Regions from separate parts of the Homo sapiens genome. Here regions 1 and 3 are each reported to be linked to region 2. Evidence: microRNA targets listed by miRTarBase, many of them from high-throughput screens and not tested one by one. Region 2 holds a microRNA gene; each other region holds the end of a gene's coding sequence.
Evidence for each region. Region 2 holds the annotated microRNA hsa-miR-6888-3p (AUCUGUCUCGAUUGUUUCCAG, at 5,320-5,340, shown strand). A microRNA usually pairs through its seed, bases 2 to 8, with sites in the 3' UTR of a target mRNA and lowers its output. Matches are read on the target gene's strand: a 7mer-m8 pairs with bases 2 to 8, a 7mer-A1 pairs with bases 2 to 7 and ends in A, and an 8mer does both.

Region 1: the mRNA of BCAS4 is a reported target of hsa-miR-6888-3p. The part of its 3' UTR that is shown has no 7-base or 8-base seed match.
Region 3: the mRNA of CAMLG is a reported target of hsa-miR-6888-3p. Seed matches in the 3' UTR shown: 7mer-m8 at 3,257-3,263.

The regions. Positions count from the first base shown.
Region 1 is chr20:50,875,771-50,885,734 of GRCh38, forward strand. BCAS4 (breast carcinoma amplified sequence 4) reads left to right here. Exons shown (of 5, transcript NM_198799.4): 5 at 716-1,407. The coding sequence ends at 838. It overlaps LOC124904929 (a long non-coding RNA gene), which reads right to left and starts at 241. Exons shown (of 2, transcript XR_007067647.1): 1 at 1-241. RefSeq lists enhancers at 371-951, 3,610-4,111, 4,112-4,611.
Region 2 is chr2:159,181,562-159,192,096 of GRCh38, forward strand. It overlaps MIR6888 (microRNA 6888), which reads left to right and starts at 5,274; the gene lies at 5,274-5,340. TANC1 (tetratricopeptide repeat, ankyrin repeat and coiled-coil containing 1) reads left to right here. Exons shown (of 27, transcript NM_033394.3): 15 at 4,230-4,338; 16 at 5,341-5,463. RefSeq lists an enhancer at 4,041-4,210 and a cis regulatory region at 4,126.
Region 3 is chr5:134,748,443-134,758,977 of GRCh38, forward strand. It overlaps CAMLG (calcium modulating ligand), which reads left to right. Exons shown (of 4, transcript NM_001745.4): 4 at 2,317-3,715. The coding sequence ends at 2,508. It overlaps DDX46 (DEAD-box helicase 46), which reads left to right and starts at 10,337. Exons shown (of 23, transcript NM_001300860.2): 1 at 10,337-10,513. The coding sequence starts at 10,497. RefSeq lists an enhancer at 10,112-10,535.

The DNA of each region.
Region 1 (9,964 bases), not on the chromosome of region 2:
GACTCCGTCTCAAAAGAAAAAAAAAAATCAGTCATGCCACCAACCACAGCCACTGTACCCAGGCTCTGAGATGGCCCTGCAGAGCTGTCACGTGTCGGTATAGGTCCCTTTGTCACATGTCTACCCTTCTCACCTTGCTTTCTTAGTCCTCCTCTGCCAGAACATATTGATCTGCCTGGCTTTTTCTTTTTTCTTCCCCGAGACATTGTCTCACTCTGTTTTCTAGGTGGAGTGCAGTGGCACAATCCCAGCTCGCTGCAACCTCCGCCTCCCGGGTTCAAGTGATTCTCCTGCCTCCGCCTCCCAAGTAGCTGGGATTACAGGTGCGCGCTACCATGCCCGGCTAATTTCTGTATTTTTAGTAGAGACAGGCTTTGACTGTGTTGGCCAGGCTGGCCTCAAACTCTTGACCTCAAGTGATCCGCCTGCCTTGGCCTCCCAAAGTGCTGGGATTACAGTCATGAGCCACTGCGCCTGGGCTGCCTGGCTCTTCTTGATGCCTACAGAGTATTCCATTGTGGAGAGGGCCTGACATGGATGCCTTGGTCCCTTTGGGTGGCCGGCTTTGGCTGTCACAGGCAGTGCTGTCAGAGGAGCTCAGAGTCTTTGGTCATATGTGTGAGTCCTGCAGGATGAACTTGTAGACCGGGAATTCCTGGGTCATGGAACAAGTGGATCCAAATCGCTGATAGAGCTTCATTTCTTGTCATTCCAGAAGTCACCTGCACCGGTGCCCGTGACGTACGAGCTGCCCACACTGTATAGGACGGAGGACTATTTTCCTGTGGACGCCGGGGAAGCACAGCACCACCCCCGCACCTGCCCTCGGCCTTTGTGAGCTTTGTGGTCTTCCCATCAGGAACGCTGGAAAGTGACATTGTGTACACACTGCAGCTTGGGGGTTTTTTCTTTGTATTGCTGTTTATTTTATATTTTAAAAATATTTAAAAAAATGTCGAGATGGGGTCTCACTATGTTGTCCAGACTGATCTCAAACTCCTGGGCTCAAGTGATCCACCCACCTTGGCCTTCCAAAGTGGTGGGATTATGGGCAGGAGCCTCCGTGCCCAGGCTGCTGCCATTTTCAAATTTCCTCCCTGCCTCATGTGAGACCACAGGGTTTGGAGAAGCAGTTGGAACCCACGTGTGGTGATGCCTCCCACATCGGCCTGCTTGGGGTTCTACAGGGGTTGAGGGACCAGGCCTGGCCGGGGCTGATGGACAGTGGGGACTTTCCTTCTCTCCATGATGGCTTTGCAGGGGCTCCATGGTCCTTCTCTCTGTGATGGGTTTTTGCACGGGGTGTGCTCTGCCACTGTGGTGGGTGGGTGGATGCTGCTTCTGTTGCCTCCAGACCTCGGTGCCCACAGCCTTGAGGATCCTTCCAATAAAGGTGTCAAGAGCTCAGCCCTGGTCTGGTGTGAGAATGACGGGGAGTGATAGTTTCCTTTTCACCTGTGCAGTGTTTTCTAGAAGGTTCCTCCTGTGCCTCACCTGCGAGGGCCTGATCCTGGGCACCTGCTGATGAGGCTCCAGCTGAGGGAGGGGTAGTCCCGGCCTTTGGATTTCCAGCAAGAGTGCAGAGGTCATTAGGACCCCCAGGGTCTTCAAAGGCTTGTTTACCCACATTTCTTCCCATGCAGATGAGTTTCCTGCTATTGTCCTAACACTCCGGATTTCTCACTGTGGCTTCAACCTGCAATGGGTATTTCTGGAATTCCTCGAAGAGCCAAGAACACACACATAATTCCCCTATGCACATACAGGACTGAACTGTAAATCTGCATTAGAATTTCAAGATAATCTGCCTGGGCAAGGTGACTCATGCCTGTAATCCCAGCATCTTGGGAGGCTGAGGCAGGAGGGTCGCTTATGCACAGGGTCAAGACTGCAGTGAGCCGTGATTGTTCTACTGCACCCTAGCATGTGCAACAGAGCAAGACCCTGTCCCCCACACCCCAAAAAAGTTTTTCAAGGAAGCCTAAAATAATGAATCTGGCAAGATAGAGTAGAGGCCAGGTGCAGCGGCTCATGTCTGTGATCCCAGCACTTTGGGAGGCCGAGGCAGGCAGATCGCCCAGGAGTTTGAGACCAGCCTGGGCAACATAATGAGACCATATCTCTACCAAAAATACAAAAATTAGCCTGGCGTGCTGGTGCACATCTGTGGTCCCAGCTACTTGGGAGGCTGAGGTGGGAGGATTGCTTGAGCCTGGGAGGTTGAGGCTGCAGTGAGCCATGATTGTGCCACTGCACTCTAGCCTGGGTAACCAAGTGAGATCTTGGCTAAAAATGTTTTTAAAAATTAAAAACAGAAAAGCAGGGAAATAGTTTAGACAATTTTTGGAATTCAGAGATATAGGTAGACCCCTTGTTTCTGGAAAAGTCAGCATTTTTATTCTCTTTTCTTTTTTTTCGAGATGGAGTCTCACTCTGTCACCCAGGCTGTAGTGCGGTGGCATGATCTCAGCTCACTGCAACCTCCGCCTCCCGAGTTCAAGCTATTTTCCTGCCTCAGCCTCCCAGGAAGCTGGGATTACGGGAGCACACCACCACGCCCAGCTAATTTTTGTATTTTTAGTAGAGACGGGGTTTCGCCATGTTGGTCAGGCTGGTCTCGAACTCCTGACCTCAGGTGATCCTCCTACTTTGGCCTCCCAAGGTGCTGGGATTACAGGTGTGAGCCACCATGCCCGGTCAGCATTTTTTTATTGAGGTGACTTTTACAATTTTTTTTTTCTTTAAATGAGACACCTGTCACCCAGCCTGGAGTGCAGTGGTGTGATCATGGCTCCCTGAAACCTCAAGCTCCTGGGCTCAAGTGATCCTCCTGCCTCAGCCTCCCAAGTAGCTGGGACCACAAATGTGCACCACCATGCCTGGCAACTTTTCAAATTTGTTTTATTTTTTGTAGAGACAGGGTCTCCCTATGTTGTTCAGGCTGGTCTTGAACTTCTGGGCTCAGGGGACCCTCCTGTTTCGGCCTCCCAAAATGTAGTGTTGGCACAAACCTTTATTGAAGTATAATTTATATTACAGAAAGGGGTGCCTAAGTGGTTCACTAAATTTTTCACAAACTGAGTGTATCTATTTAAGCCTCACCAGACTGAGCAACCAACATTATCAGCACTGAGCAGCCCCCTCATGCCCGCTTCTGGTCCATGCCCATACCCACCCCCACCCCAGGCTGACAGCATACTGACATCTAACCATATGGACTGGAGTTTCTTGTTTCTGTGCTCTGTATAAAGAGAGGACACACGGGATGTGTACCTACGGTGTGTCATCTCTTGTCTCTGGCCTCACCGGCTTGATGTTACCTTGGGAGGTGTCACTGTTGCTGTGTCACTGTAGATCATTCCCATGGCTGTGTTGTATTGGCTGGGACTGTTTTTATCGAAGGGAGCTTGGACACTCTGCATGCCCCAGTGTGCTCAGGGAGAGCACACGTTGGATGGAAAGTTGGCCGGGTGAGGTGGCTCACGCCTGTAATCCCAGCACTTTGGGAGGCCAAGGTGGGCAGATCACTTGAGGTCAGGAATTCGAGACCAGCCTGGCCAACATAGTGAAACCTCATCTCTACTAAAAATACAAAAATTAGCCAGGTGCTGTGGTGCACCCCTGTAATCCCACCTACTCGGGAGGCTGAGGCAGGAGAATCGCTCGAATCTGGGAGGTGGAGGTTGCAGCAAGCCAAGATCGTGCCACTGCACTCCAGCCTGGGCAACAGAGCGAGACCCTATCTCAAAAAAGAAGAAAAAGGAGAAAGCTAATGTTAATTTTTTAGACAAGCAGTTGAGGACACTCATTTCCGGAAGGGTGAGTATCTGCTGAGTGTTGGGCACTCCCAGGCTTCTTTCTCCTCCCAGCCCCTGAAACAGGGGCCAGGGAGAGTTGGAAGGAAATCCCATGTGATTAAGCCGCAGCAACGTTGAGTGTCCTAAAGCAGGGACCCACAGGCCCCACGCTAGGAGCATGGCCCTGAGGTTAGCCTGCCTGGCAGCACTGTCCGCTCCCATGCCTCTTAGCTGTGTGAGCTGGGCTTTTCACTTGCTCTCTCTGAGTCCAGCTGCCCCTGCGGTAAGACATGAGGATGGCTCTGGTCTGATGGGTTGTGGTGAGGGTGACATGAGGTGAGCTGTGTGCATGCTGGGCACACTGGCGAGGGGCTCTCAGTAATGGGAGGCTGCTGTTGCAGGGCCCGGGCTGTGATGGGGAAAGGGTTGATTGTCCTGCGTTTCTCAGTTGACCAGCGGCATCCGAGGGCCTGAACAGCGAGTGACTCAGGGACTGCCCTTACGTGTCAGAGTTAGAAGTCATGGGAGAATGGAGGCTGCTCTCTCTGGGTTTCCCTGTCCTGTTAGGAGGGGTGAGGTTGCACAGGAAATCTATGGGGAAAAGGTGACAAGTGAACTGGAAGTAGCCGTTCCAAAGTTCCTAGGATTTGCACTGCCAAACAATGAGCTTTAAGGGACGCTTGGAAACATCTGGGGAGAAGGAAGGCCGGGACACTGCGCCCTGCCATCACCAACCCCTAACCTCAGTCCTCTGAGCGGCTCCACTGTCCCTGTGCCAGGTGACTTCATGTGCGTCCTCATTAAAGCAAAGTGCCTGACATTTCCATTGTCCAGTCAATGATGTCCTCGGTTGCTGACTATTGATGGCCTCTAACCCCTTGGTAAGGGTAACTGCAGCCTAGGAAAGGGTGATCTGATCTTTCTCTTTTTTAAACAGAGACGGGGTTTTGCTATGTTGTCCAGGCTAGTCTCAACCTCCTGGGCTCAAGCGATCCTCCTACCTTGGCCACCCAAAGTATTGGGATTACAGTCGTGAGCCACCGAGGCCTGCCAGTCTTTTTCTTTTGTGGCTGATGTTGGACAGGGACACCAGTAGAAAGGTCACTGCAGATTTCTTCCCAAGAGCAAGGCTCTTCGGTCAACCCCCTTTCCCACTTTCCCAGCGGATGTGAACTTCGTGCTCACCAAAGCAAGAGGTTTCAAGGTAGCAGCCCATGGGGTTGTATCTGATTGGCAGAAATGTGTGGTTTGCCCTGAATTGTTTTAAGATGTTTTCATGTTGTGACAATTGGGTAAACTTCTGGAAAAAATAGAGCTCCATACCTCACTCAGCACACCTGGATTGTAAATCGATTAGGAGCTTAATGTATAAAATGAATCTATTGGCCGGGTGCAGTGGCTCACACCTGAATCCTACCACTTTGGGAGGCCAAGGTGGGTGGATCGCTTGAGCTCAGGAGTTCAAGACCAGCATGGGCAACATAGCAAAACCCCTTCTCTGTAAAAAATAGAAAAATTAGCCAGGCATGGTGGTGCTTGCCTATAGACCCAGCTACTTGGTGGGAGGTGGGAAGATTGCTCGAGCCAGGGAACTTGAGGCTGCAGTGAGCTGAGATTGTGCCACTGCACTCCAGCCTGGGTGACAAAGTGTTACCCTGTCTTAGAAAGTAAAATAAAACGAATCTATTGAAGAAATAGGTTAAAAACATTGGCGAAGTGTACAAAATCGAGAAGCCATAAAAGAGGTCAATTTGATTATATAAAATTTTTAAACTTCTGCATGGCAAAACCAACGGAAAACTCAACCAAAAAATCCCAAAACAACAAAATCCTAAGCAAATTCAAAAGATAGATGACAAATTGGGAAAATATATTTGCATCTCATGCTACAAAGGGATAATCTCCCTAAAAAATGTCACCTACAAAAAAGGGAAACAGTAGCAAAACAGGCAAAGGCTATGAACAGGAGTTTCACAGAAAATGCAAAACATGAAAAGATACTCAACCTTAATGTATGCCAATAAGTATGGAAAAATACCCTGAGATTTTTCACATTTCAGGCTGGCAAGGATTAAAATTTTTGATGACACTATTGAATTTTTTTTTTTTTTTGAGACAGAGTCTGCTCTGTTGCCCAGGCTGGAGTGCAGTGGTGTGATCTCAGCTCACTGCAACCCCTGCCTCCTGGGCTCAAATGATCCTCCCACCTCAGGCACCCAAGTAGCTGGGATTACAGGTGCGCACCACCATGCCCAGCTAATTTTTGTGTTTTTAGTAAAGATGGGGTTTTGCCATGTTGGCCAGGCTGGTCTCAAACTCCTGGCCTCAAGTGATCCACCTGCCTCAGCCTCCTAAAGTGCTGGAATTACAGGCTTGAGCCACTGTGCCTGGTCTTGCTGGTGATATTTTGAAGAAACATATTCTTGTACATTGATGGTGGGACACCATTCTCATGGGGGGGCAATTGGCATACCTAACAAAATTAGAAATGGTCCTAGCTACTCAGTAGGCTGCGGCAGCAGGATCGCTTGAGTGAGCCCAGGAGGTTGAGGCTGCAGTAAGCCGTGATCATGCCACTGCACTCCAGCCTGGATGACAAAGCAAAACCCAATCTCTTAAAAAAAAAAGGGGGGGTTGCGGGGGGAAATGTCCTCAGACCCAGTAATTCCACCCCTAGGAATCCAGCTTACACACACAAGAAAGAAAAGATAAATGTACAAGGTTAGTCACTGCACAGTGAGACAGCAAAAGATTAGAAAGAACCCAAGTGATTATTGATCTGGGTTTTATTCCTTTATAGCCCAACCATATGATGGAATACTATAATGTTGTAAAAATGGGTTAAGAGTTCTTTATGAATTGGTGTGGAAACATCGCCAAGATATGAAAGCCAAATGCAGAAAAATATATGTGGTATGCTATTATCTATGTGAAAAAGACATTACTATTCTCTGGAAGGATAAACACAAATTTGAGAATGGTGGATATCTGGGGTGAGAGGTATCCTTTTCACTGTTCTTTAAAAGTTTTGATATTTTGGTGTTTGCCTATTCAAAAAAATGGTTAAAATCAGTTGCCACCAATTAAAAATTAGGAGAATGCATATAAAGAACTGAATTTCCTGTTTGTTTGCTTGTTGCCTTAAGAATGTGAGCCCACTGTTTTTAGTGCCAGATATTCTAATTTTAAACAATGAGCTACATAAAGTCAAGTTGCTTTGGAGGGGGGGGTCCTGGTCTCCAGGCTTTTCTTATACTCAAATTATTTCACTAATTTATTTCACTTGCCTAGCCCCTGTGGGCATTTGCATTTGAGATCCGTAGAACCAGAGACTCAGACAATGGGAAATTTATTCCAAGGATATGGAGTGTGTGAAGAAATGCATCTCGGTCTCAGCTTAATGTGGTGGAGGATGGCAGCTAGATGGTCACTGCAGTTCAAGCAATTGGCAGTCTAGCTAGCACCTCTGTACCCCAATTCCAAACTCCCTGAGGATGAGGCATGGGGTCCCACTAGAGAAGTGTGTGCTGTCCAGGGCTCTCCTTTGGGAGGTGACTGATACCAGGTCAGACATTGTAAGAAAGCTACACCAATATTCCACAAGAATACAAATGCAAAATCAAGAAAATATCAGGAAACAGAATCCAGCAACATATAAAAAAGGATTATACGCCATAACCAAGCAGGATTTCTTCCAGGAGTGCAAGGTTGGTTTAACATCTGAAGATCAGTGTACCACACCATATTAATAAAGGACAAAAACCACATGATCATCTCAATAGATGCAGAAAATAAGCATTTGACAAAATCCAACACCTACTTATGATAAAAACTCTCCTTCTTGGGGTAAAAAGGGGAGTTCTTGGGAAGGTTAGAAGCTAGACAGGTACCCCACAATGTCTGCTTACAGGGTTTACCAACTCCTTGGAGATGTTTAGTTGACTCAGGCAGCTACAGGTTTCCAGGAACCTTCCTCTCCATCTTAAAGCAAAATCCCACTAAATCCCACTTTGCATTATGGTGAAGAGTGCAAACATCTTTGGAAGGAGTTGCAAGTAGTTCTAATTTCAAGCAGCTGTCACAGAATCTCCTCTCTGAGTTCCCTGGGCTTGCTATGGGCTCAAAAGCCTGGAAATTCTTACAGGTGATAATCAGCTTGATGCATTTCAGGCTTGCAGCAGTAGGAGTGAGTGGAGGGCAGCAGGTCTGAGGCTGGCCTCTGCAGTCTTTGCTGGGCCTTCTGGCAGAGTGTGCTTTAAGGACTGCTCATGATGCTGGGTTTGGAGAAGCAGTTAAGGGGAGGACTGCAGGGGACACAAGCATTATATTTGGTCAGAATGAACATACGGTTCCCCTTAAAAACCAAACCAGTGAGGCATGAGCACCCGAGGCCAGCCTCTTCAACCAGGAGGGGTTTCTCACTGGGCCTTCCACGGAGATGCTCCGTTTTAGACGTAATGGGCGGAGTTTCATCTGGAGGAGCCAGGCCGAGGTGAATGAAAGGGAGGAGACCTGGAGGAGCGGGTCTTCTGTTGGCATCCCCAAGCCTGGTGCTGCTGCAGTGGGGACTCTACCCAGAAGGTAAGGATTCCAGCTTAGGCCACGGTCTCCTTGTTGCCGGGATGAACCGAGGAGATGTTGGGGCAAGTCTACACTCTTGAAATGGTTTTCTACATGCAGGTTGCATCTCTGAGTGTACAGGTTCTTCTTAGGCTGCTAGCAGGTGTTTGTTGAGTGGCGGGGAAAAAGAATAAGTGGTCTCAAAGGAAACTGCCTGGAGCAGACATACTATTCAAGGGAAGGCTGGAGCTTGTAGCCCACGTTCACTGCGCATCCCTTTAAACCAGTTCCGTCTGGGAATCAGCTGGGCCACACCTCAAACCAATTACATCAGAATCTCCAAGCAGGGGAGGGGGAAACTTAGATCACCTGTCTTTAAACCCCCCCAGGTGATTTCAGTATGTAGCCAGGGCTGGGAATCACTTGCTTCCAAAGAATACCAGTCAAGAGATTTTTCAGAACTTGCTTCGTCTTCTGAGTTGGAGCAATTGCACCTTTTATCTGGTTTTCATATGGCACAAGGCTTCCTTTGAAGTGCTGGGTCCTCAGCATCGCTCTGCACCTTCTGAGTGTAGCATGGAATTGGTTTTGAATTGGTTTCCGGTTTTGGGTTGAATTGCTTTCACCCGAGCTTCAGAGATGGGTCCTGACTAGTCTAAGCCAACCAGGGTAATGCTAGCTCAGTGACTGACCAGGTAGCTTTGGACTAAGCCCATCAGCTTAGTCGGATGTTCTGGAATGGTCCAGTTGGCTTAGAATTCAGGATTCTTTCTTAATACTGAATGAAGGGGAAACCTCTCAGGTTAGGTAAGTGGAAGGCACCCTATGAATACCGGGGTGCCTGCCTAGGATGAAGTGTCCCTGTGGGTGGCAGGATGGAGACAGAAAACCTGAATCCTTGGTGATGTCCCTGAGCAGCTTGCCCTCCCCAGACACAGCCAGTTGCCCCCTTGTCACCTTTATTAAGCACCGTCTGAGCTGGATTTCCCGTTACCTGCCAGTGAGAGTCCTAATTAATATAAAAGGGTCTGAGGTTGGGCAAAGCAAAGTGAGTAGTCACTGCTAAAGGAAGCAGAGTTCCCTGAGCAGCTCTTGGAGCCAGAGCCCAGGCTGGGCTTGAAGCCCATCTGTCAGCCCCTAGCTCAGCACTATCCGGCATGCTAGAGGTAGCAGAGTCATCCTGGGATAAGGCGGGTCTGGGCTGAGGCTCATTTTGGTGCTTATGGACCTGGGACCCTGCTCTGATTTTCCTTTTTTTTGAGACGGAATTTTGCTCTTGTTGCCCAGGCTAGAGTGCAATGACACGATCTTGGCTCACCACAACCTCTGCCTCCCCGGTTCAAGCGATTCTCCTGCCTCAGCCTCCTGAGTAGCTGGGATTACAGACATGTGTCACCATGCCCGGCTGAAGTTTTTTGTATTTTTAGTAGAGATGGGGGTTTCTCCATGTTGGTCAGGCTGGTCTCGAACTCTTGACCTCAGGTGAGCCACCTGCCTCAGCCTCCCAAAGTGCTGGCATTACAGGCATGAGCTACCACACCCGGCCGGATTTTCCTTTTTAATAGCGCAAGTCTCAGGCTTGCAGCCTCAGCATGCGATAACAGGTA
Region 2 (10,535 bases):
GCTGGGATTACAGGCGTGAGCCACTGCGCCCGGCCCCCTCGTTAGATTTTTAAGTTGTTTCTAAATTACTTACAAACAGAACAACCTGTCATGTCTTGGTGCCTTGCAGGTCTGGATTCAAATCTTCCATTGATTCTTGTATATTTTTCTCTGCATGAAATATATTTTAATTCTCCATGCCTTCCTTCCTTATCTATAAAAAATGAGTGTCTTCTCACTGAGTGCTGGTAGCTATTAAATCAGATCTTAAGACGATGTACTACCTCTCTTCTTTCCTTTCTTCTCTCTTAGTTTTGATTATGCCCTAGGTTAGCATTCCAGAAATAGAATTATGAAGATAAAGAATAGTTTGAGTCTGGCCGGGTGCGGTGGCTTACGTGCGTAATCCTAGCACTTTGGGAGGCAGAGATGGGTGGATCACCTGAGGTCAGGGGTTCGAGACCAGCCTGGCCAACATGGTGAACCCAGTCTCTACTAAAAATACAAAAAAAAGAAAAATTAGCCGGGTGTGGTGGCAAGCACCTGTAATCCCAGCTGCTTGGGAGGCTGAGGTAGGAGAATTGCTTGAACCCAGGAGGCGAAGGTTGCAGTGAGTCGAGATCGTGCCACTACACTCCAGCCTGGGCAACAAGAACAAAACTGTCTCAAAAAAAAAGAAAGAGTTTTCATTCATATCACCTAGACTTAAACATATTTACATTTTGCAATATTTGCTACATCTGTTTCCTTTTTTTTTGTTGAAGTATGTTAAATTGTAAACATGACATTTTACTTTAAATAACTGAATATTCATCTTAGAGATATTTTCATACTTAACCACGCTATTACTGCACCTAAAATATTAATGCAAATTCTTAATAATCTTAAACATTTAGCCATGCTCAAATTTCTATTTTTTAGTATGTTCACATCAGGATCCAAAAAGTCCATAAAATGCATTCGATTATCTCTCTTAATCTATAGTTTCTCTCCTCATCTTTTTTTCTTTTTCCTCAAAATTTATTTGTTTAAAAAGGGCAGCTGGGTAGTTCATCCTGTATAGTTTCCCATCATCTGAATTTTGTGTCCTCATGTTTTTTCATGTGTTCCTCTCACCCCTATTTCCTATAAATTGGTAGTGAAGTTTAGAGGCTTGTTCAGATTCTATATTTTTAAACAAGGACACTTAGTAGGTGGTGGTGAGTACCTCTCTCAGGAGGCGCATGACATTGTCATGTCTCTGTAGGCACTAGAAGCCACTGATGACCATTTTTAAGATCCATCAGTTTTTTGGGGTTGCACAGGAAGTCTCATCTGGAACAGTCCCCTATTAGCTCTGTTCTCTGTTAACTCGAGGAGTTAATAGGTATTAGTAGGTAGAACAAGGCTGTTGCAGACAGGAGGAGCTATTGAAGACGTCGCATCAGAATGAGCAGGCCGTGTTCTGCAACAGCAAATCTAGTTTGACTTGACCTTTTTTCATGGAACAGAGGAGAGGAAAGAGCTGGCAGAAGGGAGTGTGCAGGGCACAGAGTGTATAGGGCCTACTATAGCAGTCAGGAGTGGGGACTTGGGGGGACTGGGGTTAGAGACGGGCCTTGCTGACATGAGGTAGCTCTTGTGGCTTGGCCTCATGGGCAGAGTAGAGGAAGAAGAGCCAGAAACTAGGTGTGGCATTGCTCTTGGGAAGGGTAAGAAAGGCAGGTGGTATGTGGCAGGCTTTGCAGGGACAGAGCTGGTTTTAGTTTTCAGCAGTTGAGATTGCAAGATAGCCGTCTGTCCCAGGCAGACAGGTTCCAGCGCCAGGGCGGGTCGGCAGGTTGGAGGAGAAGCTGACAGTTGAAGATCTAGCATCACTGATGGAGAGGTGTCTGGCATGACTCGGTGAGGAAGCTCATGTCATTAGAGAAAAGATAGCACTGGGCTTCCAGGGCGTGGAGGAGGGTTTCAGGGAGGGACCTTACGGATGTAAGTGTTGCCAAGAGGTGAAGGGAAATGACGGTTAAGAGGAAGCCATTGGATTTTCAGTGAGGGAGGAGGGTCCTGGATCCTTAGGAGACTCCGCCTGTTGGGTTGAGAGGAGAGAGAGGAGGGAGCCAGCGTCTTGGGATGGGAGGTGGAAGGGCTTAGGGGGCGGGTGGTTTTGTTTGTTTGTTTGTTTTTTAATAACACAGGAGATTGGAACATTGTCAGAAACATCACTGAGAGATAGTGTGGAGAAAGATCCATAAAGAAGGAGAAATTGGGAATGTAAGGAGGAGGGACCGGGGCCTGAGTGACGGGGCAGGTTGCCTCCTCTTTGTTCCCGTGGAATCTGTTCACAGCACCCAGTTAACTGACTTGCATATCGTTTGCGTGTCCCCTCCCATTGCTTAGAGCTTCTCAATGGAAGCACCTTGCATTGTTCCCCCATAGAATCCCCCCGTCAGACGTGGTGCCAGTGATAAGGTGTAGCTGTGAATGAATGGAGGACTCAAGCTCCGCAGGTTAAGAGCACAGGCTCTCCTGTCTGACCAACTTTAGTTCAAATCTCTGTTCTGTCATCTAGCCATGTGGTCTTGCATAAGTCGCTTAACCTGTTCAGGCCTCTGTTTCTTCATATAAGCATATGGGGGTCATAGTACTTAGTCACAGGATTGTGCAGGTAAATGAGATAATTCAATTAGGTTTCTGCATCTGGCATAGAGTAAGAGCTTGATACCTGGAAGCTTTGGAAATTAACAGAATCATGAATGCAGATTGTCTTAGAAGGGGATTGCTTGGTCTCAAGAACAGGAGGGCAGGGAGGAACTATGGGCAGGGTATGCAGGAGTATAGGTGGGGAGCAGTGGCATGGGGAGTTGTCTCCTCAGAGAGGTGGGATGCCCTGTGCTCAGCTGGGAGCACTGGAAACTTTAGGCCCGGCCACCAAGGGGTGTGTGGTCATCACCCTGTAAAGTGATAGTTAGTGTGTCTTTGTGATGGACACGGTTGGCCTGGCCACAGAGCTCAGCCAACTGGGAGACTTAGGAGGACTTAGCCTGTGGTTGGGAGAGTGGCTCCCAACTGACATGAACTGGGCCAGAATGAATCCTGGGATCAGCCCATGGGTAGGACCTGGGGAGGCCTTGGGGGCCTAGAGCACTAGAGAGATGCTGACAGCGGTTTCCATGGGAATAAGGGAGGAGGGGAATCCCAGGCTCAAGATCTGGGACATGGAAGGTGTTCAGGGAATGACAGGGCATGTGCTCGTGGGAAAACTTCAGGCCATTACAAGACAATGGACGAGACTCAGTGGGCAGTGTGGCCTTAAACGTCATGCCCTCCCCTGTAGTATAAAAACTGATTCCTTGGCCTCCATCTGCCTTGATTTCCTCATCTCTAACACGGTTTATAACCTATTTGAGAAGCAGGCATGCACCTGGAAAGACAAATGCAGTTTAAATAATGCATGCTTTTAATCATCTAGATTAGCAACTACTAGGAGGATGCGTTTTAAAACATATATAATGTTTATCTTTTCCTCCCTCCACAACTACCTGCTTTTCCCCAACCAAACAGCTCAAAGTTGACAGGATGATAGAAATGAAAGTAATTTACATTGCATAGAAGTCACTCCTATTGGAATAAGCAACTCTGTGTGTCATTTAGAAACTAATTGGCTCAAAGGCATGGGATCCACAGGAAGACAGAGTGAGTCCTATGGACATGGAGGGCAAATGGGCAGGATGGCCCTTTCACAAAAGGGAAATGGGCAGGAAAATAGGCAGGATGGTACCTTCACAAAAGGGAAATGGGTGCTGTTGGCTGGATGTCCACCATGTGCCAGCCACAGCAAACCCACTTAGATGCCTTAGCCTTCTTCTCACCACAAGGACTTGTGTGCCATCCAAGCCTAGAATTCTCTGCTTTCTTGATCATGAGCTGTCACCTAGCACGGCCTGGCTTTTCTCTCCTTCCCACGTGAGACCTTGTCCTTTGTCTACCCCTAGTGGTGGTGATCCTGAGGGGACCTGAAGGCTAGGCCCAGGGATGGTTCTGTGCTCTGTGTCTATTCATGCATGCATTCCAGAAACACATTTGAGTGTTCACCAAGTGCTCAGCACTTTGCTAGGCATTATGACTCAGATGAGACCCTTAGCCTCCCGGAGTTTACATCTTTGTCACGGGCATAAATCAGTGACTAAGGCAATGGGTGGTGAATTGAGGGTGGGTCTGCGGTGTGGTGGAATGGGCTCTTCTGCTGTGAGCCTTTGTATTCCTTCCCCTAGGAACGGGCACGCGCTCTTGGCATTCATGTTCTCGCGTCAGGAGGGCAAGTTGAACCGCCAGCAGACCATGGAGCTTGGCCACCACATCCTGAAGGCGCACATTTTCAAGGTGAGATGCACACCAACTTGGGGAAGGGTTTCTTTGTTGTCATTTTGAGGTTTTGCTTTGGAGATTTTAGACAGCTCTGTCAGCCATCCAAGAAACGCTCCATGCACCTCAGCCCAAATGCAACCTCCTCCTGCCTCCCCTCTCCAAAAGTAACCGCTGTTCTGACTCAGCCTGGGCATTTCCTTGCATTTTGCTATAGTTGATTGCTCAAGTGTATATCAGAGTGCTGTGCTTAAGTTTTACTTCTTTCCACCTTTAAATCTCTGATAAGTTTCTTTTTATCTAAAGGTTCCACTTTGTTCATTACTTTTTGTTTCCTTATTATTGATTTGTTCGAGAACCTGAGTTTCTTGACCTGTGTGATTTTGTACCACCTGGACTTTCTGACTGTGTTTGCCCAGGCTGGAGAGCAGTGGTGGGATCATAGCTTACTGGACTCAAGCCATCCTCCCGCCTCAGCCTCCCAAGTAACTGGGACTATAGGCACGCTCCACCTTGCAGGGCTCAGATGGTGATATTCTAATTCTGTCATTTATTCTTCCTCTAATTTACTTCCAACATGGTAAAACCTTGTCTCTACTAAAAATACAAAAATTAGCTGGGAGTGGTGGCATGTATCTGTAATCCCAGGTACTTGAGAGGCTGAGGGATGAGAATCACTTGAGCCTGGGAGGTGGAGGTTGAAGTGAGTTGAGATTGCACCACTGCACTTCCAGCCTGGGCGACACAGCAAGACTCTGACTCAAAGAGAAACTCTCATCTGCCATCTCTCTCCCAAGGCACAAAGTTAACCTAGTGAAGGCAGGCTGGTTCCTTGACCCTTGGTTTCAGGTAGTGAAAGCTCGCATGTCCAGGCATTCTTTGTGTGTGACCCCGTGCCTTCTGCAGGTATCTGCACCCTCTGCGGCAGACCCACTTTCAGAGTGACCCTGCAGGTGGGAAGGAGATGCTCAGGCAGATCTGTCTCTGATTGTTTCCAAGATCTGTCTCGATTGTTTCCAGGGCCTCAGTAAGAAGACGGGAATTTCTTCAAGCCATCTCCAAGCCCTGTGGATCGGCTACAGCACCGAGGGGCTGTCCGCCGCCCTGGCCTCTCTCAGGAATCTCTATACTCCCAACGTGAAGGTGAGCAACCTTCTGCACAGAGAGCCGGAGACCCAGCCCTGGCCGGCTGCTGGCCGTTCCTCCAACAGCCCTGTTTCCCTCTGCCCTGGGTGGTGGTGAGAGGACGCAGAGGAGCTTCTAAAGATGTGCTTCCCTGATCACACGGGCTTGGGTGCTGTATTACTCGTTCTTCCAGAAGTTTAGCTTTTCTTTGGCAGGAAGATGTGGGTGGTCAGGGCTGCTCTGAGCACATGTGGTGACTGTTTCACAGCAGATGTGATAAGGAAGCAATTTACAAAAGAAATCAAAGATCAGAGAGATTTCTAGGGAAAACGGATTTTTTAAGTGTCCTGCGTTACTAATCTGGACCATCTCTTCAGAGTTCATGGGAAATTAAGCATGGATGGGTGATGCATAGAGATAAGTACACAGAAAAACAAACATCGAGGTTTCATGTATCCATATTTCTGCCTATGGAAAGGGTATCAGCATGGCCTTCTGTGGAGCCAAGAGCTTCTTCACTTCTTGGTCAGTGGCTTTCATGTCATGATGTTCCACTCAGCTTTTTAAGGTAGATTTTTCTTCCTGATTTCATGTAGCCTGGGAATCTGAAGCACACAGAGGCCAAGCAGCCTGTTAAGGCCACAGAGACAGTGTCCAGGCCTTTCAGCTTCAGGCCCTGATGTACCCGGCTGCCTGTGGAAGCCCTGGGTCAGTTTAGGGAGCCAGGTCTTCCCCCCGAATCACTCACATTGTTTCATCTTTCATTTCAGCTAAGAGTGTATCTCTCGGCTTCTCCATAACTAATAAAATTCTATAATCATAAGAAAGATGAGAATAAAAATGGCAATATGTTTTCATATGTTAATGAATTTCTGGGCATAGAATTTATTTTAATATGGAAATAAGTAAATGGGAAACATCTGTTGAGTACAAGTTTTTAAGACAGTAAATTTAAAGGTACTGCATAATAGTGTAATGAGCATGGCCCTCCTGAGATTATAAACTTTGCTCTTTAACGTATGTGCGATTTTAAGAGTTAATCATTTTTACTTTGTTTTGTAAAACTCCAGTGTCACCTACATCTACACCATCTCCGAAATTATTTCTATAATGTGGTTATAGAATCTTAAGTCTTTTCATTATCCTTCTGTTTCTTTTATCTTTCAAGGGGGGAAAACGGTTTTCACAGGATCTTGAACAAATTACAGTAATTTTAAATTATGCATGCAATTAAGGAACTTTTTTTAGAGTGTATTAAATGTTGTCATACAGGAATGAATGTCATTTTGAACAATAATTGCAGTTTGCCACTTTGGTAAATTAAAGTGACTTGCTCTGGGATGATTACTTGGTAGATGGATTTTAGTTGCAGTGGCATGCCAGCAGTCTCTAACCATGTTGTCTCCTGTGGCCAGGCCAGGATGGGGCCAGCCTGGGCCCCGCTGGCCCACTGGAGTCCCATCCAGCCAGTGGTTTTGTTGTACCATCTCATAGGACTGGTGGCCAGCCGCAAGCTGTGGCCTCAGGAGGATTTAGGTTGCAGTTCTTTTCTCAGCTGACAACAGAAAGGAGAGGAGAACAGGAGCTAGGTGTGGCCTTTGGCCCAACTTCCCTTGGCCGGGAGATCCAGTCATATCCTACATCATAGTCAGGAAGGACACATTTTAAAACAATTGTGCTTGTGTGAGCTTCCAGTGTACTTAGTGGGAATGCTGATGCTGCCCTATGGCCACCCTGGCCAAGCCTCTTCTGGTCCTCATGATCGTATTGCCTCGCATATCCCCAGCTCCCTTCCTGTTTTCCTGTTTTCATTAAATCCAGAAGTTGAGAGATACCACCACTTCTGAGTGTTGTCCAAGGAGGGCTTCTGTGATCATGGTCGGAAAATTTCCATATCGTTGGGGGAAAATCTATAGGATGAATCATTTAAACAGGTTCCTTCAGCACAGTGCCGTCTCAGCCAAGACTGCTGCTCTGCCACCTGGCTGCTCTGTGACCATCATTAGCTTTGTGCTTAGCGCTCAGCTCGGCCTTACTCCCTCTGAGCCTTGGCTTTCTCACCTATAAAGTGGAGACACAAAAGAGGCTGTCTCTCAAGTGATGAGAAACCTTACTGAGATGTTAAAGGTACTGGGAACATACTTGGCATTTATTATGTTTACATGAATTGTTGTTAGTGCTTTGCCTCATCTCTGGAAACAGTGGCTCTGCTGTAGGCACCTGGGAAGTTTTGGATGTGCCAGTTGGTGCTTGTTAACAGGAGCTGCCGACCTTGAGGATGTGATGGTTGCAGGTGACTTACCTCTGCCCTCATCTCGGCATGAGGTGTCCCTGCTGCTCTGTGCTGGTGAACAGCCCAGGCTGGGCATGCAGGGTGATGTGGACAGGAGGGCAGAGCTCCCTCCTGTGCCTTCCAGAGGTCAGGGACCTGAGTTCTTGTCGTTTCTGAAGACTCCATGAAAGGTTGATTATAACATCGATTAATGTTTATTTAACATGTACAGATGCTGAGTGCTGTGCTAAATGCTTAATGCACATATATATACATACACTTTTTTTTTTACACATTGATTTTTAATCTTTACAACCACCAAGTGAAGTGAAACTTTTATCCTCATTTTTTTAGATGAGAAAACTGAGGTTTAGGGCAGTTGATACTTTCCAAAATCACACAGCTGGAAGGGCGCCTGACACTCAGCAAGCCCTTGCTCTGCAGGTGCCTTTATCACTTGATGTGTTTACAGCCCTGGCTGCCAGCTAAAATCACCTGGGAGCTCTGGGCACCACAGCCCCAGCCCCAGTTAAGTCAGAATCTCCAAGAGTGGGGCCAGGGTATTGGAAACTTTCAAGCTCCCAGGTGGTTTCAGTGTGCATCAAGGTTAAGAACCATAGTTTAGGGGAAGGTGATGGAGGGTTAAGTGGTAAAAATACGTACAGCATTACACCGACAAAGGAAAATGTTATTCCCAGAAGCAGAGGAAGTGTGAATTGATGACATCTTTAGGAAACCTCTGCCCTGAGCACATGCCTTCCAGGTAAACTCTTGTAAGGGATTCATCATGGTACTCCAAGTATACCTTCCACCATTATTAGCAAAAGAGTACCTGTTAGATAGAATGGGATGGCATGCTGCTGTTTTCTTAGGTGGCACCTAAAGCACAGAGAGGTTGAGGAATTTTCTGAAAATCACACAGTAGGTTAGTTTGGGGGCTGGCTGAGAACTCACACCACTTAATCCTTCATTTTTTAGGCCCATGGATCTCAAGAAGGTATGGGGTTGATGGGGGAGGACAGAATGTAACTGGCTGGCAAAATTATCCAGGGAATTTACAAATGATCCTGCCCATCCTGTGGCTAGCAGAGTCTGGTGTGCCCCTTGGTGGCATTGCGTGTATTTCCAGATGTGTATCTTCTCTACTCCTCTTGCTGAGGACTGGTTTCATTGGCCTTAATAAAATCCTATTTCTTCAGCATAATCTGATTCTGTCCACGCTGTTACTCAAAGGGATTTTTAAAACACTTTTATTATTTTATTTTTATTTTTATTTATTATTATTATTTTGAGATGGAGTTTTGCTCTTGTTGCCCAGGCTGGAGTGCAATGGCGTGATCTTGGCTCACTGCAACCTCCGCCTCCTGGGTTCAAGTGATTCTCCTGCCTCAGCCTCCCGAGTAGCCGGGATTACAGGCGTGTGCCACCGCAACCAGCTAATTTTTGTATTTTTAGTAGAGACTCAGTTTCACCATATTGGCCAGGCTGGTCTCAAACTCCTGACCTCAGGTGATCCACCCACCTCGGCCTCCCAAAGTGTTGGGATTACAGGCGTGAGCCACCATGCCCAGCCACACCTTTATTAATGTTGTAGCATAATGCAGTCTTAAAATGCTTTTGAATTAGATCAGAGTCTGGTGGCATTTTTAAAAAGCAAGCCTATATAGATCTGTAGAGCAGGCTTGGTGGGGATTAATTAAGTCATTTGCCTGAAGTTGCCCATGAAACAGCAGTGTTAGGACTGGACACCCTTTCTGATCTCTCATCCATTCCTCCACAAGTACAAGTTGACAGCGAGACCCTAGAGGCTGGGTTGGTGTTCACCTGGATCTGGCTAGACAGTGGTCTCTCTGATGGTGTAGACAGCGGGGTGGTGGTCAGGTGGTTGGCTGGCTCCTTGTCACTTGCACATGGCCTGTTCTTCCTTAAATGTAGATGGCAGTCCCAGCAGTGTGAAGAAACTGATGTGTGGGTCATCCCCATCCATGGAGGGGCTCTGTTTGCCTTTCTTCTCTGTGAACTTCTGTATCGTAGAACCAGTGTCTGGTGCAGTGGACTAAGCAGGAAAACAGAGCATGCTGAGGGATAGAGAGGGCCTGGGTGCACAGGGTACCCTCTCCCCCATGTCCTGGCACTGGAGCAGAGCCCTGCAGGAAGTGATTATATTTATGGAATGAGCATTCCAGTCAGGGAACTAAAAGGGGGTAAAGACCATGAGGCCGGCCCTGCTTGGCATTGTCACAGCACGTGTTGGGTCCAAGGTGGCTGCAGTGAGGGAAGGATTCTGCAGAGAAGATCAGAGAGGAAGCTGGAGGCCTGTATCACAGAGGTTCAAGCTTCAGCAGCCAAGACATCTTCAAATTTGACACCTGGGGTTCTAACCTGTCACTATGCCATTGTGAGTTATGGTTTCACTACTTGGTAGTATAATTTTCCAGACCCATTTGTTTGTAAATATTCTGTTTGTCAGCTACTCTTGTGGACATCTATCACTGAAATACCATGAAGTTTTTATGCCTTGTCATCTCTCTGTATCTTTTAATGATCCCCATGTGTCTCTAGTCAATAAATGATAGTCTCTGTGGTTTTCACATTTAGTGGGCAGGTGGAGGACCTGCCAGGCTTTGGCAGGGGCAGTGATTGATGTGGGTCAGGACCATTGAAGTAAGCCATTGAAAGAAACACACTGGGCATCTTAATAGCTGTTAAAGGAGCATCATTTGTATCTAATGATCTGAAGATCTGAAAAAAAAAATATTATTATACCTAAAATTTGCGTATGTTCAGTAATTTTATTTTAAAACCTGTAGATAAAAAG
Region 3 (10,535 bases), not on the chromosome of region 2:
TGGGAGAATCGCTTGAACCCAGAAGGCGGAGGTTGCAGTGGGCCGAGATCCTGCCATTGCACTCCAGCCTGGTCGACAGAGCAAGACTACGTCTCAAACAAAAAAAATTAGTTCTAATATGAAGAGTAGGGTACCAGCGTAATTAATTGATTGCTTGAAATGCTTGTCTTAATTGTACCATTTAATACGTTTGTTATCCTATGAAACCCATACCTCTTTCAAGGTTTATAACTTCACTGTCACCCCAGGAGTTTCTTTCATGCTCCTTTCCAGGCAGTCCCAGTCCCTATACCCCAAAGAACTTTTTCCCACGATAGATTAGTTGTGTCTGGCATAGTAATCCATGTAAGTGGGATCATTCTTGATTTTACTTTTTTGTGCAAGCCTTCTTTATTCCGCATGATATTTTTGAGATTTATCCATGTTGTTGGATAAATCAGTAGTTAATTCCTTTTTTTTTCTTGGCTCAGTAATACTACATTGTATGACTATATCCATTTATCTAGTCTCCTATAGATGGACATCCTGGTTGTTTTCAGTTTTGGGGTTATTATGACTAAAACTAAGAGCTTTCTTGTATGAGGCTTTTTGTGAGCATAAGCTTTCATTTCTTTTAGGTAACTATAGGGTTTTTTTTTTTTTTCAGATGGAGCTTTGCTCTGTCACCCAGGCTGGAGTGCAGTGGCACGATCTCGGCTCACTGCAGCCTCTGCCTCCCAGATTCAAGCAATTCTCCTGCCTCAGGCTCCCAAGTAGCTTGGATTACAGGCATGTGCCACCACGCCTGGCTAATTTTTTTGTATTTTTAGTAGAGACGAGGTTTCACCATATTGGCCAGGCTGGTCTCGAACTCCTGACCTTGTGATCCACCCACCTCGACCTCCCAAAGTGCTGGGATTACAGGCATGAGCCGCTGCACCCGGCCAACTATAGGTTTTTATATTTAAAAATATTTTAAACCGTATGATTGGATTTTGTGATAATAAAGAAAAATTCAGCTTTTAATCTCTTAAAAAAATGAGACTAGAAAATTAATAAGTAAATGTTCTCTCTTCCACCAGAAGTATACTGAATTGTTCAGTGATACCCTATTGGATGTGTAATCAAGTGTGGATTCCTTTGCATAACAATTAGGGCCCTACATTCCTATAAGTCTGTGACAAATTACTCATTGTTCTCCAAGCATTCTTCTGCCTCTAACTTGTCCTGAGACTTAACGCTTCAAAAAACTTTCACTTCTGCCAGTCTAAATCCTGCTCTTCTTTGAAGGTCTGTTTTTAGTTGTTGTTTTTGGAGACGGGGGTCTCACTTTGTCATGTGGGCTGGAGTGCGGTGGTGCAGTCTCAGTTCAGTGCAGCCTCAACCTCTTAAGAGATCCTCCCACCTCAGCCTCCTGAGTAGATGGGACTACAGGCTCATGCTCAGCTAATTTTTGTATTTGTTGTAGAGACAGAGTCTCCCTATGTTGCCCAGAGTGGTCTTAAACTCCTAGGCTCAAGCCATCACCCAGCCTCGGCATCCCAAAGTGCTGGGATTAGAGGCATGAGCCACTGCACTTGGCCTGAAGGCCTGTTTTTAATTTTACTTCCTCTGAAGTCCTCCTTGTGCTTTATTTACATAAAACACTGGAGTAATTTATATCTCCTGTGAGCTCCTATGTCACACATTATCCATGTCAGTCATTTAGCAGTTATTTATGTCCTGTCTAGTAATATTTTTCTTGTTTTTATATTGTACTGTTGTATATATCATAAATTGTTATTTATGTCATACTTCCAAGATAACACTTTTTAAAAACTTCTAATAACAAGACTGGGCCAGGTGCAGTGGCTCACACCTGTAATCCTGACACTTTGGGAGGCTGAGGCGGGCAGATCACGAGATCAGGAGTTTGAGACCAGCCTGACCAACATGGTGAAATCCTGTCTCTACTAAAAATACAAAAATTAGCCGGGCATGGTGGCAAGCACCTGTAATCCCGGCTACTCAGGAGGCTGAGGCAGGAGAATCGCTTGAACCCGGGAGGCAGAGGTTGCAGTGAGCCGAGATCGTGCCATTGCACTCCAACCTGGGCAACAGAGCGAGACTCCATCTCAAAAAAAAAAAAAGCAAGACTGATGTCTGCTATTGCCTAGCAGATTGATGAGTTACATATTATATGCTCAGTAAATGTTGGTATCTTACTGATTGTTTTGAAACATCATTAACAGTTTTTAAATCATTTCGGTTAAAAACAGCAGTACTGATCATGTTTGTATAGAGCTTAATGTAGCCTGCTGAAACTTTGAAGATTAATTTGAGTCTTTCTCTACACAGAGTGAAAAGAAGATAAAGACAACAGTACTAACAGCTGCACTTCTATTGTCGGGAATTCCTGCCGAAGTGATAAATCGATCAATGGATACCTATAGCAAAATGGGCGAAGTCTTCACAGATCTCTGTGTCTACTTTTTCACTTTTATCTTTTGTCATGAACTGCTTGATTATTGGGGCTCTGAAGTACCATGAAGCCTGTAGAACTGAGAAGGAGAAGCTTACAAAAAAAAAAAAATCCTCTTCTATATTGCAGTGTCTCTAAAGGAGGCAAATTGGTTTACACCTTCATGTAATTCTTTTACTTTAGGGGTTGTAAAGCTACTTTATTAGATATAGAATGGCAGATTCTCTGATTTAAAAGGGCTGAGTTTGTATTATTACTGATATGAAGAATAGAGTACCAATGTCATTAATTGATTTTTCTTGTTAATCAGAATTCCTATTCTGTACCTTTCCTCTAACTTCTCAGATTTGTAATTCTTCTTTTGGGAGCTGAGCTAGTGCTTTTAGGAGAACAGATAAATGTGGTCTCAGCCAGCCCTAGAGACTGCTTCTTGTGTTTGTGTCATTCTGTCCTGAGAAATGAAGTCATCTGAAAAATAAAATGAAAGAAACTGAATTGTCTAATGTTAACTCTGCACATTGTAACTTTTCTTGTTGAGTTAGTATCTTAATTTTTACTCCAGCACAAGTATTTAATCAAAGAAAAGATTCATACATGTGAAATTGGAAGGTATTTATAAAATTTTTATTGCTGTATACCAAACTCAGAATTGGAACTTTTTACATTTGAGTTTCACTTTTTAGAAGTATGTTTTAAGCAAGCAAAAACAAAATGGGATGTGAAGAATTGAGGCATGCAACCCAATAGCATAAATGTCCTTTTTCCCCCCAAATATGGTCTAGATGAGTTATTATAAACATTGTTTTTATTTTTTTGAGACAGAGTTTCGCTCTTGTTGCCCAGGCTAGAGTGCAATGGCGCCATCTCGGCTCACCGCAACCTCCACCTTCCTGGTTCAAGGGATTCTCCTGCCTCAGCCTCCCAAGTAGCTGGGATTACAGGCATGCACCACCACGCCCAGCTAATTTTTATATTCTTTAGTAAAGACAGGGTTTCTCCATGTTGGTCAGGCTGGTCTCGAACTTCTGACCTCAGGTGATCTGCCCACCTCGGCCTCCCAAAGTGCTGGGATTACAGGCGTGAGCCACTGCACCTGGCCTTATAAATATCCTTTTAACTAACTCAGTAACTGCCATATTTTGTTGGGTTGTCTTCTTAAAAGAATATAAGACTAAAGTGTTAATGTCACTTGGTGTTACATTTCCTTACAGATTTTTGTATAGTCTAATTTGGTTAATCCTTGTGACATTAAAAACACATACACTTTTTAAAAAATTACTCTTTAAGTCTTGATTTCTGTCATTTCATTTTGAACCAGGGTAATGAAGAATAATTTAAGTCTATTCTTCTGATTTGGGTGAAAGATTATAAGCACACATTTTTCCTGATTCCATAATGAATCTAGTATCTAAAGGGTTGTAAATCATCCTTAAAGTTGTCACTTCCTTAATCGCTGAGAAGATACTAGTGGTCTTCAATTGCACATTGCACATGTTTACTCTTTTGGTGCTTTTTTTTTTTTCCAAACAGTGTTTACCACTGTTGTCCAGGCTGGAGTGTAGTGGTAGCACAATCATGGCTCACTGGAGCCTTGATTGACCTCCTGGGCTCAAGCAATCCTCCTGTCTCAGCCTCCCAAGTAACTGGGACCATTAATGCCTGGCTAATTTTTTGATTTTTTGTAGAGACAGGATCTTACCATGTTACCCAGGCTGGTCTCAAACTGGGCTCAAGCAGTCCTCCTGCCTTGGCCTCCCAAAATGCTAGGATTACAGGTATGAGCCATTGTGCCTGGCCTACTTTTCTTTCTTAAAAAAAAAAAATCATTTAGCCAGCTGACACATGCAAAATTTTAGTAATTGTAGATCATTATCAAATTTATATTTTGAAGACAGTTATAAGATATCTGTATCTATTGGTGCCATTTTTTGTCTTTAACTGATAGGCATCTCCCTGATCATTTGCTTGATTTGTTGAATAATATCAAGTAGAAATGAAAGTTTTTTTTGTTTGTTTGTGTTGTTTTTTTTTTTTCTGAGACAGAGTTTCGTTCTTGTTGCCCAGGCTGGAGTGCAATGGCACAATCTCGGCTCACTGTAGCCTCTGCCTCTGGGGTTCAAGCAATTCTCCTGCCTCAGCCTCCCGAGTAGCTGAGTTTATAGGCATGCACTACCACGCCCAGCTAATTTTGTATTTTTAGTAGAGACGGGGTTTCTCCATGTTGGTCAGGCTGGTCTGGAACTCCAAAGCTCAGGTGATCCACCTGCCTCGGCCTCCCAAAGTGCTGGGATTACAGGTGTAAGCCACTGCGCCCGGCCTGTTTTGTTGTGTTTTGTTTGACAGTTTCACTCTGTTGCCCAGGCTGGAGTGCAGTGGCATGATGTACAACCTCTGCCTCTCAGGTTCAAGCAGTGCTCACGCCTCAGCCTCCTGAGTAGTGAGTAGCTGGGATTACAGGCATTGCCACCATGCCTGGCTAATTTTTGTATTTTTAGTAGAGATGGCGGTTTCACCATGTTGGCCAGGCAGGTCTCAAACTCCTGACCTCAAGTGATCTGCCTGTCTCAGCCTCCCAATTTGCTGAGATTAAAAGTGTGAGGCCGGGCGTGGTGGCTCACGCCTGTAATTCCAGCACTTTGGGAAGCCGAGGCGGGCAGATCATGAGGTCAGGAGATCGAGACCATCCTGGCTAACACGGTGAAACCCCGTCTCTACTAAAAATACAAAAAATTAGCCAGGCATGGTGGCAGGCACCTGTAGTCCCAGCTACTCGGGAGGCTGAGGCAGGAGAATGGCATGAACCTGGGAGGCGGAGCTTGCAGTGAGCCAAGATCGTGCCACTGCACTCCAGCCTGGGCGACAGAGCAAGTCTCTGTCTCAAAAAAAAAAAAAAGTGTGAGCCACTGCAGCCGACCTGAAAGTTTCTTTTTTTTGAGACAAGGTCTCACTATGTTGCCCCTGTCGGAGTGCAGTGGCATGATCAGGGCTCACTGCAGCCTTGCTTTCCCAGGCCCAAGCAATCTTCCCACCTCAGCCTTGCAAGTAGCTGGGACCACAGGCATGTGCCACCACCCCTGGCTAATTTTTGTTTTGTTTTTTTCAGAACAGAGTCTCTGTCGCCCAGGCTGGAGTGCAGTGATGTCAGTCTCAGCTTACTGCAGCCTCTGCCCGCCCCCCGGGCTGGTTCAAGCGATTCTCATGCCTCAGCTTCCCGAGTAGCTGGGATTACAGATGCATGCCACCACATCTGGCTAATTTTTTGTATTTTTAGTAGAGACAGGTTTCACCATGTTGGCCAGGCTGGTCTCGAACTCCTGGCCTCATGTGATCCACCCACCTTGGCCTCCCAAAGTGCTGGGATTACAAGCGAGAACCACTGCGCCTGGCCTGGGAATTGAAGTTTCTTAGTGTTTGGAATAGTTTAAAACGTTTTTTATTTGGAAATTTCTGGGTTTTGAAATGTATATGGACTGGCTGGGCACCATGACTCATGCCTGTAATGCCAGCACTTTGGGAGGCCGAGGCGGGTGGATCACTTGAAGTCAGGAGTTTGAAACCAGCCTGGCCAACATGGTGAAACCCTGTCTCTACTAAAAAAACCAAACCAAAACAAAAAAAAATTAGCCAGGTGTGGTGGCGGGCGCGTCTGTAATCCCAGCTACTCAAGAGGCTGAGGCATGAGAATCACTTGAACCCGGGAGGCAGAGGTTGCAGTGAACTGAGATCGCGCCACTGCACTCCAGCCTGGACAACAGAGTGAGACTCTGTCTCAAAAAAAAAAAAAAAAGGTATATGGATTAAAACTAGAGGGACAAGGATGGTTGTTTAGAGGTGACATCTTGACCATGTAACCTAGTAGTTTTTTTAGTTCAATTAGTTGTGTAAATGGACATGTGTCATCACAGTTGGCACTAAAAACAGCAAGTGGGTTATTAGATATTCAATACTGGGTTAGTAAGTCAAGTCACAGTCAAAATCTGCTGCTTTGGAAAACAGGTTAGTTTACTGAAAGTGATGTATTAGAACACAGACTATAGTCATTTCTTTCACCTATCTAAATAGATAAAATCTTCCAGCCTCACACCTGTAATCCCAGCACTTTGGGAGGCCGAGGCAGCAGATCACCTGAGATCGAGAGTTCGCGACCAGCCTGACCAACATGGAGAAACCCCGTCTCTACTAAAAATACAAAATTAGCTGGGAGTGGTGGCTCATGCCTGTAATCCCAGCTATTTGGGAGGCTGAGGCAGGAGAATCGCTTGAACCTAGGAGGCAAGGTTGCAGTGAGTCGAGATCGCGCCATTGCACTCCAGCCTGGGCAACAAGAGTGAAACTCCGTCTCTAAAAAAAGAAAAAAAAAAGCCTTCCTCCAGGACAGACTTGATGTGAATTTACTATAAATATATTGTGGTGGAGTGGGGGTGGTGCACACCTGTAATCCCAGCACTTTGGGAGGCCAAGAGAGGCAGATCGCTTGAGACCAGGAGTCCAGGAGTTTGAGACCAGCTTGGGCAACATGGCGAAACCCTCTCTATGAAAAATACAAAAGTTAGCTGGTGGGGTGGTGTGTGCCTGTAGTCCCAGCTACTAGCTACTTGGGAAGTTGAGGCACAAGATTCGCTTGAACCTGGGAGGAGGCTGCAGTGAGCCGAGATCACAGTACTGCACTCCAGCCTGGGCAACAGAACCAGGCCCTGTCTCAAAAAAAAAAAAAAAAAAAAAAAAAATATATATATATATATATATATATATATATATAAAATATATATTCTATATATATTATATTAATGTAATATTAATTAGAATATATATTATATATATAAGAAATATTTAAGCCAGTTAGAATTGTCTTGTTAATGTGTTGTCTTAAAGGGGAGTTGGAAATAAAGTATCTTGAAGACAGCTCTGGCCTAAGTGTCAGATCTCTGGACTCTAGTTCCAGGTTAGATTCCAACAAGGTTAGTGATCTAGGATGAAATATGTTTCCTGAGTCTCAGTTTTGTTACTTAAAATCAAGAAGTTTGAGTTTGTGATTTTAAAAATCTATAACATTAATCCCATGATTCTTTTTATTATTATTTTTTGAGACAGAGTCTCGCTCTGTCGCACAGGCTGGAGTGCAGTGGCGCGATCTTGGCTCACTGCAACCTCTGTCTCCCGGTTTCAAGTGATTCTCATGCCTCAGCCTCCCGAGTAGCTGGGATTAGCACGCACCACCACACCCAGCTAATTTTTGTATCTTTAGTAGAGACATAATTTCACCATGTTGGCAAGGCTGGCCTTGAAGTCCTGCCCTCATGTGATCCACCCGCCTCAGCCTCCTAAAGTGCTGGGATGACAGTCATGAGCCACTGCATCTGGCCCTAATCCTGTGATTCTAAGCAATATTCAAATTGTGTTAATTTCAAAAATTAAGGACTTATTTCCATTCACTTCTGCATGGCCTCATCCAGTCCATGGCTTCAAATACTGTGTATTATACATTCTATAAAATGCTGAGGACCCATATCTCTCCCGCCTCTATTTGTAGCTGTTATTTCCTGGATGTCTAGTAGGCACCTCAAATATCACATGACTGAAACAAACTCAATGACTTTCTCTATTTCCTCCACTAAATCTGTTGCTTCCATGCTTTTCTCATCTCCACAAATTCACCACAGTCCACAATAGCTCTGTTGAAAACCTGGCAGTCATCTTTTATTCCTTCCTTTCCGTCATAGCTCACATCCAGTTTATCTATTGGCGCTTTGAGAGCTGCTTCCAGAATACACCCAGAATCTGATCACTTCTCAGTCTTCATTGTTTAAGCCACTGGTGGTTTTCTATGTCTTTTAGGTTGAAATCCACATTCCCTACCTGCAGCCCACATCCAAACAATTTACAGGGGGATTCCTAACCCTCCTTGGTGTCCATCCTGTCACTCATTAATTAGCTCAGGCCTTCTTACCCTTGGCATGGACTGCCAGAACCTCCAGTCTCTATCCCTCTTCAATGCTTCTCGCAGCTACCACAGGTGGGCAGCAAGCCACGGGGGGCGTGGGGAGCATAAACTCATCTTGGAGTGTCACTCGTTGGTTTGCTTTTTTTCTTTAATCAACTATGTTGAGGTAAAATTTACATACAATAAGTCATGTACAGTTAAAGGGTACAGTTCAGTGAATTTTGAAAAATGTGCAAATCTATTCAATGACCACTAAAATCAAGACACAGAACTTTTCCATCATCTTTAGGTGTAAGAAAGTAAAATAGTACAGAGGCAAGTAAAGTAAAAATATGAGCCTTTCTCCAACTCCATTATAGCTTTTTGCAAAAACAACTCAACATGGCCGGGCACGGTGGCTCATGCCTGTAATCCCAGCACTTTGGGAGGCCGAGGCGGGCAGGTCTCCTGAGGTCGAGAGTTCAAGACCAGCCTGACCAACATGGAGAAACCCCATCTCTACTAAAAATACAAAATAAGCTGGGGTGGTGGTGCATGCCTGTAATCCCAGCTACTTGGGAGGCTGAGGCAGGAGAATCGCTTGAACCCAGGAGGTGGAGGTTGTGGTGAGCTGAGCTCTCACCATTGCACTCCAGCCTGGGCAACAAAAGCGAAACTCCGTCTCAAAAAAAAAAAACAAAAAAAATTCAACATTTCTGTGTGTGTTGCATGAGACAATACATATACATTTTTTTGGTGCCCAAACTCTCGAATAATGTTCTCAATCTTGACTGTACTTCAGAATTACCTGGGAAGCTTAAAAATTCCCAGTGCACAAGAAGCACTCCAGGCCAATTAAATCAGAACATAGGGGTGGAACCCAGGCTTCTATTTTATTTACTAATATTTTAGAGATGAGATTTCTCTGTGCTACCCAGGCTGGAGTCATCATAGCTCACTGCAGCCTCAAACTCCTGGGCTCAAGTAATCTTCTTGCCTCAGCCTCCCTGGCTCAAATGATCCTCTCACCTCAGCCTCCCAAGTAGCTAGAACCACAGGCGTGCCAGCACACCTGGCTAATTATTTTGCTTATTTTTTGTAGAGGGTCTCGCTATGTTGCCCAGGTAGGTCTTGAATTCCTGGGCTCAAGCCATCCTCCTGCCTCGGCCTCCCAAAGTGCTGGGATTATAGGCATGAGCCACCATGGCTGGCCCTTTTTTTGTTTTTTTGTTTTATTTTTAAGCTTCCCAGTGCAAGCAATGTTGAGAACTAATCTTTTGCCAAAGTATTTTTAGCTCTTTGTTCTCTACTAGGTTAACACCTACCGGGTCTTCAAATCTCACCTCAGAGTTCACTTCCAAGGGAAACGTGTTTTCTGAATCCGTCTCCAATGGTGGACTCTCCTTGCTGTATTACTTCTGCTTGTGTTTTTAGTCAAGTCTATTATTATTACTATTTTCTTTGCAGAGACGAGGGCTACGTTGCCCAGGTCTTGAATTCCTGGGCTCAATAGATCCTCCCGCCTCAGCCTCCCAAAGTGCTGGGATTTCAGGCGTGAGCCACTGTGCTGGCTTTAGTCATCTGTTTCCCGGATAGACTGTGAGCTCCCCAGGATCTAGCACAAGCCTGGCATATGACAACATAAATAAATGAGTGAATGTATACATGAATAAAGAGCGTGTACGGAGAAAGTTGCCGCATTATTTAGCGCAAATTAAGGCAGACATCAGCCTGCCCAGGACGCCTCTTTGGCTCTGGCGCGAAACACCCTCACGGGCCGGCGAGGCTGACGCGCTGCGCTCCATCGCACTAATCAGCCGGGCGTGGTGCGGGCGCCGGGAAGACTGGGCGGGGCGAAGGCATCACCTTTCGATGGGGCCGGCGCTGTGCGTCCTCCAGTCGAGGTGGGGCGCTGTGGAAGAGCGGCAGCTTCCGGTCGGCTTTTCTCTTCCTTCGGCTGCCGGCGCCAGCACGTCCTGTTTTCGTTGGCCGCGCTGGGATGGCCGCCACAGCTGTAGGTGCTGCTAGTGTTTAGCGCTGGTCTTTGCCGGGCGTTGAGGGCAGCTCAGCCTCCTTGTTTGTCCGGTTCGCCTGTGCGTGGTACTCAAGGGCACCAGTATTCCCGCGGTCGGCAGCATGGGTCGGGAGTCACGGTGAGGCAGAGCGCCGAGCGGG